Regions from separate parts of the Homo sapiens genome. Here all the other regions are linked to region 1. Evidence: fine-mapped expression QTL. A gene starts in region 1. Each other region holds a variant in brackets. All regions are shown on one strand. Distances are from middle to middle.

What was found.
Region 2: its variant is fine-mapped to the expression of AASDH in whole blood (TOPMed, PIP above 0.99).
Region 3: its variant is fine-mapped to the expression of AASDH in kidney cortex (GTEx, PIP 0.91).

Annotation. Positions count from the first base shown.
Region 1 is chr4:56,386,175-56,389,026 of GRCh38, reverse strand. It overlaps AASDH (aminoadipate-semialdehyde dehydrogenase), which reads left to right and starts at 1,536. Exons shown (of 15, transcript NM_181806.4): 1 at 1,536-1,665. RefSeq lists enhancers at 1,192-1,241, 1,104-1,610, 1,272-1,641, 1,611-2,118.
Region 2 is chr4:56,327,395-56,329,894 of GRCh38, reverse strand. CRACD (capping protein inhibiting regulator of actin dynamics) reads right to left here. Exons shown (of 11, transcript NM_001393381.1): 11 at 1-2,251. The coding sequence ends at 2,091. Among named protein-coding and RNA genes, the nearest start is that of AASDH, 59 kb to the left of the region's middle. The variant G/C (reference allele first, on the strand shown) is at 1,536.
Region 3 is chr4:56,346,421-56,349,272 of GRCh38, reverse strand. It overlaps AASDH (aminoadipate-semialdehyde dehydrogenase), which reads left to right. Exons shown (of 15, transcript NM_181806.4): 11 at 1-10. Among named protein-coding and RNA genes, the nearest start is that of AASDH, 40 kb to the left of the region's middle. The variant C/T (reference allele first, on the strand shown) is at 1,581.

The DNA.
Region 1 (2,852 bases):
CAACAGCTTCCAATCAACTTTTAAATATACCCCCACTTACATATGAGCAGATAAGGACCACCAGACATCCTAGGAAAGCCTCTAATGTGAAAGATAGAGCACAAAATCAACAGAAGAAAAAAAAAGGAAACTTGAGGGAAATAGATACTGCAAGGGAAGAAAAACTTTAAAAAAGGTATCATTAATATCAGAGAGTTGGATGATGATACTGGAATAATAAAACATCATTTTGGCAGCAATTCAGAGTCAATCAGAGGCAAACAAAACTGAAAACGTTTTAGGAAAAAGCTGACCAAGAAGACCTGAACTAAAGTAGCAGTAATGGCGATGAACATGACACTTAAAAAACGCAGGTTCTAGGCCCCTCACTAGAAAACTAGGGGATGAACCTCCGGGGATGGAGTCCAGGAATTTGGAATCTTCTAAAACATCACCACCGGCAATTCTGATGTAGCCAGCTGGGTGCTGGTCTCAAGACTGAGAACTAGAGGACATAGGGTCTAATCGGATGTAAGAGGTTAAGAAAGTGGGAAGGTTGATAACTGTCTGGCTGGGTGGATGATGGTGTCATCCCAACGTAGAAACATAGAAACATAGACAAGATACACTTTTGCCCACTTCCAACCTAAATACATAAATAAGGCTGTGTTAGTTTGAGTAGTCCATGGTACATCTTGGAAAAGTATAGTTGGCATGTGGAGATATTTTTTGCTTAGATTAGAAGCACAGTTTCTTGTCACCAACAACTACGGCTGCGAGAGCGTCCTATGCTTTTTTCTCACGTACTGTTTTGATGCAGAGCTGTCTTCGCAGTCCCTCCCCCGGCTAAAACCCCCCAAACAAAAAAATCCCGATTATTCTGCCACCAGACAGTAGCTTTAAAACACCTCTGTTATTGCCCTTGACGCTTATTGTAATAATTGACATGTCTCCAACTGTAACAATTCCCTTGGAAACAGAAAGTTCTATTCAGGCATATAGTTTACAAAACTCCACCTCGGACCTGCTTTAATTTCTTTACAGGTCCTACTAAATGCTCCTGTCAAATTCCTTAGTTATCGTTTCAATCTGCTTCCCAATTAAAATGTCAGCATCATGATGACAGGAACGTCGTTTGCAGGCGTCACTGCTGCAGCCATATCTCCAGCACGTTTCCAGAAAATGTCATTGGTTGAAAGCAATAACTCTCCTATTTCACAATGATTTCATCTCTCTTCACATCAACCCTAGGTGATGTTTTTATTCTCACCTTATGAACGAGAATACTGCGGCTCAAAATTCAAGAGTCTTGCCCAGAGTTTTTTGGCAAGTACGAAAGGGTTATGGCTCCAAACTGGTTAGCTCCGAAGTCCTTGCAAACCCTGTCCGAGACCATGCGCGACCCCAAGGAGCGCCTGAGCAGATAACCAAAAGTGAAAAAGCCTATAGACCTCTTCACTCAAGTTAGCGCCTCGGCTTCAGGAGAGGCAGCGCCAGCTCCACGCAGCCGGCCCGGGGTCGCTCGCACTGACGTCACGTAGCGACGCGGAAGATTTACGTATGGTGCCTCGCTCTGGGATAGCTTTACGGCTTCTGGGAGCTGCTGCTTCGCTGTGAGAAGTATCCGCGACGAGCTATCCGGGAAAGGGCCGAATGCGATCAAACCTAATCCGCGAGACTTGCTAAGTGAGTCGCGGCAGGGCGCGGTGTCCGGCGGGGGTCTGTGTGAAGGAGGCGAAGTGCCGCTAGGCCTGAGCCTGCTTCCACATACATTTGCTCAGCTTCAGGACCACTGCCTGACCTCGGATTTGATACATCGGGGTCTGGCGTGCTGGTGTGGTGCAGACTAACCCTGACCTGTGTGTACACTCCTGCGTCACTAGCCTCCGCCCCTCCATTCAAATGGAAATAAGTGTGCTCCGCGCTCAGCTACCCCCTAGAGTGGTTTCGAAGAGCAATGAAGAAATGTTTAGGAAGCTGTAAATTGCATTGTTACTCGTTGCATACCGTAAATTTAGAAGCCGGGGAATTGGGAAAATAAAGTTTCTAGATTATTTATCCATTTTTAAAACAGCCAGTGGCCTAGAGAGAGGCCCCATAGCAATTGAATTTGCTGACACTCTTAAGATCTTTGTTGACTAAATAGCAGCTTCTACAGTTGTAGCAAGTAAATTTATTCCTTTTACATGTAAAATCTGCTTACCAGAGTTTGCTTTTTTTTTTCCTTTTTTTTTTTTTTTTTTTTTTTGAGACGGAGTCTCGCTCTGTCGCCCAGGCCGGACTGCGGACTGCAGTGGCGCAATCTCGGCTCACTGCAAGCTCCGCTTCCCGGGTTGACGCCATTCTCCTGCCTCAGCCTCCCGAGTAGCTGGGACTACAGGCGCCCGCCACCGCGCCCGGCTAATTTTTTGTATTTTTAGTAGAGACGGGGTTTCACCTTGTTAGCCAGGATGGTCTCGATCTCCTGACCTCATGATCCACCCGCCTCGGCCTCCCAAAGTGCTGGGATTACAGGCGTGAGCCACCGCGCCCGGCCTTTTTTTCCTTTTTAAGGTCTCAAACATTTGGGCATTAATAAGTTTAGTATTCTCTACTGCAGAGAATGTTATTTGTGATTCAATGAATGAAAATGAAAACCTGAGACAAGAAGAATGGATTTTACCTTAAATGTCTGTAGCAACCATTGGGAAAATGGAAAGAAACATCTTAATTATCGTATAGATGTGTAGGTACCCTTCTGCGCTACCTGTATGTTGCGAAATGAACTCATTCCTCATAATTTAAGCGCCTGCTGCAGAAAGCCTCCCTTATATTTACATAATGATCATTGTATGTCTGAGGAAAGCTTAAAATTGTATCTTGTGCATTAAAAA
Region 2 (2,500 bases), 59 kb after region 1:
ATCCCAGCCAATACAAAGTTGACACATCTACAACTTTTTGTAACTGATCTTAGTTCCCCACCTGTTCCCTGCCATAATTGGGATATTGTCCAAAGCTGACAGGATGAAAGAAAAAGTCAATTCAGAAGAATTACTGTAGCATTATCATTCCAGGGCTGTAGGTGGAAAGATTCCCATTAAAAAGTGTTATATTAGTGAGGAAATCATTGGAACTAACAAATGCCTACATATAAGATTTAGAAATGAACATTAGTATGGAAGACGTGCAGTGAAATACTAATTGCTTGCCATAGCAATAAAAAAAGGTTACATTGATTTTTAACAGTCTGAAGGTCCAGTATATATGATATTAAATCCAACTTGCAAGAGTACAACTATCCACTTGACCACACATGCCAGCTGCTACAGTGAGGCTGAGCTATTGTTTCTAGAAAGAAAATGGTTTCTACATGGTAAATAACTTTGCCATCATCCTTTATTTAAGGTACATGGTAGAATAACAGCACATTGCATATTGAGCGAGCATAAAGGAAAGTAATGATGGATACTTAATAAAGCATGTTTTTGTAGGAGAGGAAAAAGGATGTAATTCCCTCTGCACAGAGCAAAGGATGTGTACCTATATTTCGGAGTAAGAATCTAAGAAAAGGGGAATATGCCAACACTATGAAATATAAGGTTAGCACCAGCAATATGTGAGTTTGCCAGTATGTCTGTTTCATGTAAATTTAGGGCAATAAAAGTGAATATATGTGGCTTTTAAACTGCCAAGTCCCTTCTTTGTATGCACATGTGTATGATGATAAAAAGGCCACTTAAAACTCAGATGTTTTTTAAAGGTAGCAAGGTGAATGCTCAAAATTAGAAATGCTACTGGACATGTGACTCTAAATATGAATTACTCAATTATAGTAAAGAAAAGACTTTCTGCAGGAAGTCCTTATTACAAAGGCTCCAAATCTTGGCTTCCTGTTTATTTTCCCTAAAGACCAAAGGGAATTTTCAAACATGTAATGTCAATAACCTGTTGCTTCTTGTAATAAATGGCTGGCTTGGGGGGTTGTTTTATTATTTTTCCTGTCTCACTGTTGCTTTTTGAGTGAATGAGCCTCCCCTTCGAAGTCTGAAAAATTAGATTGCATTAGGATCAGTGTTTCTCACAGTTCTTAACCTTTGGGATCTATCAGAACTGACCTGAAGAGTTTTTGCCAGAATACATATTCCTGGCCCAGTCCCCACAGGCTCTGATTGAGTAGGCCCTAGGAGGGAGCCTACACATCATAAGAACTACTGCCCTAGATGGAGATTCTCAGAGACAGAAAGTGAACTTGTAGCTCTGATCTAGAATTGTCTTTCTTCACTACATTAAATTAAAATGTTCCCTGGGAGCCAACTGGGCCAAATGCTTCACATGTCCTTAAGGAGGGTATTGGAATAACAGGGCCCCACACTATGAATCCACAGTGCGGTAAAAATGTGAATGGATGTGCCTTCTGGGTTACAGCTTCAGAGTGGGGAAAACTCATGAAAACTAA[G/C]ATGGGCACAGTTGGGTGCCAGAATGTTCCTTGTGATTCCCAATTACTCACTGCATTCAGGAGAATGGGTGTTCTTGCTTTTAGCTAGATATGATCCTTTCACCATTACTGTAGAAAGGATAAACATTCCCAGACATATGGTAGAGTAAATGTTTTGGACAAAGAAAATTAGTGCATAGAATCAAAAAACCATTACCAAAGGTTGGCAAAAGTACATGTTCTGAATGGTGTGTGGGTGGGTGTGTGTGCAAGGCCATGAAATGGGCATGGCAGGCTCTCACGAGTTCTTAGCTTAGAGATTTTGCTTCATGTGGTCCTGTGGACGGAATTTTCTCTTGAGAACTAGGAGGAGCTCGAGGCACCAGGACCTAGGGTTGTGCAAATCCACTCTTTACAATGAACACCACCAGTTCAGTTTCTAAACATTATTTTGGAGCCTATAAAACATGCTTCTTTTCCCTAGCTTGATTTCTTTACCCCATATAAAAAATAAATAAATAAAAAGGGCAAGAGAGGAGCCAATAACTGGCAGTAGGGATGGGTGAGAGTCACTCTTTACTTAATAATCTGTGGACAGTCGCTCCAAGCCTTTGCTTTCCTTTTGGCCAAAGCCAGCCAGGCTGGTTCTGTTGACACGGGGGCAGCATCCGGGGTGGAAAACCTCTTGGTGACTTCTTTTACCAGCGGCGCTGGGGGAGCCGAGTCGGAGATCTCCACTGGATTTTGTTTTGAAGGAAAAGGAAAAAGTAAGTTCACAGCCACACTACAAATTTTCTTTTTAATTAACAGATGATAAACTATGTATTTATCATGACAAACTGTATTTGTCATGTACAACATTGTTTTGAAATATGTATACATTGTGAAATAGCTAAATCTAACTAATTAAAATATACAAAACCTCACAGTTATCATTTTTATGGTGAGAGCATTTAAAATCTACTCTCTTAGGTCTCTTGAACTTA
Region 3 (2,852 bases), 40 kb after region 1:
ATTGTGGTGGGTAAGTTTTTGAATTTGAGGTTTGTGGAGTTAAATTGAATTACCATACAATAATCTTCATAGGCCCAAGTTAAATTTTTTAAAAATCTAAATATGATGGGTTTGGTTGCTGTCCAAAAATTATAGTTAACCCTGTGCTGATTAATATTGTGGGCCTTGGGGTCAAGAGTCCCTGGATTTGAACCTACCTGTATAGCTATTATGAACTCTGTGACCTTTGGCAAGTTACTGAACCTCTTAGAATTTCACTTTCCTTGTGGGTAAAATGGGAATAATAATAAAATGTGTTGCTGTATCACAAATACCCCAAAACTCAACAACCTAGAACAACACAAATTTATTGTCTCATAGTTTCTATGGGTCAGCAATTCAGGAGCAGCTTAGCTGGCAGTTCTGGCTCAGGGCTTTCACGTGGCTATAGCCATCTGAAAGCTTGACTTGGGTTGGAAAATCTGCCAAGGTAGCTCATTTACATCACTATTAGCAGAAAGCCTCAGTTCTTTGCTGATTCTGGCAGGAAGCTTCAATTCTTGCCACATACGCCTCTCTCTAGGCTGCTTGACTGCCCTTACAACATGGCAGCTAACATTCCTCAGAGTGATCCAGGAGACAGCAAGTAAAGAGGAACAGAGTACCTTTTATGACCTAGCGTTCCAAGTTCCATACCATCATTTTTTGTTTTCTTCTGTTAATTAGAAGGGCATAACTCAGCCAGGCGCGGTGGCTCACAGCTGTAATATCAGCACTTTGAGAGGCCAAGGTGGACAGATCGCTTGTGCCCAGGAGTTCGAGACCAGCCTGGGTAACATGCAGAAACTCTGTCACTACAAAAAATACAAACATTAGCTAGGCATGGTAGTACATGCCTGTAGTCCCAGCTACTTGGATGGCTGAGATGGGAGGATCACTAGAGCCCAGTAGGTTGAGGCTGCTGTGAGTGGTGATTGTGCCACTGTACTCTGGTCTGAGCAAGCAGAGCAGGACTCTGTCTCAAAAAAAAAAAAAGTGCATAACTCAGTTCAGGCCACATTCAAGGGGAAGAGAATTAGGCTCCACCTCTTGAAAGGAAGTACATCAAAGAATTCATGTACTTTTTTTTTTTTTCTTTTTTTTGAGATGGAGTCTGGCTCTGTTTCCCAGGCTGGAGTGCAGTGGCGCGATCTTGGTTCACTACAACCTCCACCTCCCGGGTTCAAGTGATTCTCCTGCCTCAGCCCCCTGAGTAGCTGGTATTACAGGCACATACCACCACACCCAGCTAATTTTTGTATTTTTTGTAGAGATGGGGTTTCACCATGTTGGTCAGGCTGGTATTGAACTCCTGACCTTGTGATCCACCTGCCTCGGTGTCCCAAAGTGCTGGGATTACAGGTGTGAGCCACTGCACCCGGCCTCCTGGACATATTTTAAAACACTAGAATCTTTTATCAAGCTTTTGGGAGGATTAAATGAGATAACTGTTTATGAATCAATTGGTGCATTGCTAGGGACGTGCCACCACACCTGGCTAATGTTTGTAATTTTTGTAGAGACAGAGCTTCTGCGTGTTGTCCAGGCTGGTCTCAAACTCC[C/T]GGGCTCAAGCGATCTGCCCACCTCAGCCTCCCAAAGTGCTGAGATTACAGGCGTGAGCCACCATGTCTGGCCTGGTGAGCATTTTTTCATAAGTGCTCATTAAGGGTTAGCTACTAACTGCTGCTTAGTTTCATTAAGGTATAGGTGACTTTTACTCTATTAGGAATATGGGGGTCCTGGGTATAATATCTCCCCCTGACTACAACTCTCTTTTTACTCTCCCAAGTATGTTAGGTTTCATTTTATACGCTCATGGAATCTTCATCAAAGCTTTTCAAACTAAAGGCTTAGGAATAGCTTTCCCTACTTGTGCTATCCTAGCAGCAATCTACTTGAATCTGAATGTGATTCTTCCCTTCTTCCCCTTTAAACAACGGCATTTTGAAAATTATACTACAGAACACTTTCAGTAATACACCTGAATGATAAGAAACTGCTGAATTGTTTCCCAAAGTGATAAAGTGTTTTGCATTTCCACCATCAATGTGTGAAAAGTCCAGTTGCACCACATTTTTGCTAGTACTTGGTATTGTCAGCTTTAACTTTTTTTTTGTTATAGCCGTTGAAATAATCATGAGTGGAATTTTATTGTGGTTTTAATTTGCCTTTCCCTAGTGACCAGTGATGTTGAGCATCTTTTTTTTTTTTTTTAAGACAGCGTCTTGCTCTGTCACCCAGGCTGGAGTGCAGTGGCGTCATCATGGCTTACTACACCCTCGAACTCCTGGGCTCAGGTGATGCTCCCACCTCAGCTTCTGGAGTAGCTGGGACTACAGATACACCACCACACCTGGCTAATGTTTGTAATTTTTGTAGAGACAGAGCTTCTGTGTGTTGTCCACGCTGGTCTCAAACTCCTGGGCTCAAGCGATCTGCCCACCTCAGCCTCCCAAAGTGCTGGGATTACAGACGTGAGCCACCATGTCTGACGAGCACCTTTTCAAAACCTCATTTGCTCTCTGTGTATCTTTTGTGAAGTGTCTATTGAAATCTTTTTCCCATTTTTAAGTTTTTTAAATTGAGTTTTAAGAATTGTTTTATGTATTCTGAATATAAATCATTTATCAGATATATGTTTTGCATGTTTTCTCTCAGTCTGGGGCTTGTGTTTTATTCTTTTAGCGTAGTGACATAGTGTCTTTTGAAGAGGAGTCCTTTATTTTGATGAAGTCCAATTTAATTTTTTTAATGGGTCATGCTTTTGGTGTCATCTTAGCAATCTTTGCCTAACCCAAGGTCAAAAAGATTTTCTTTTGTATTGTCTTTTGGAA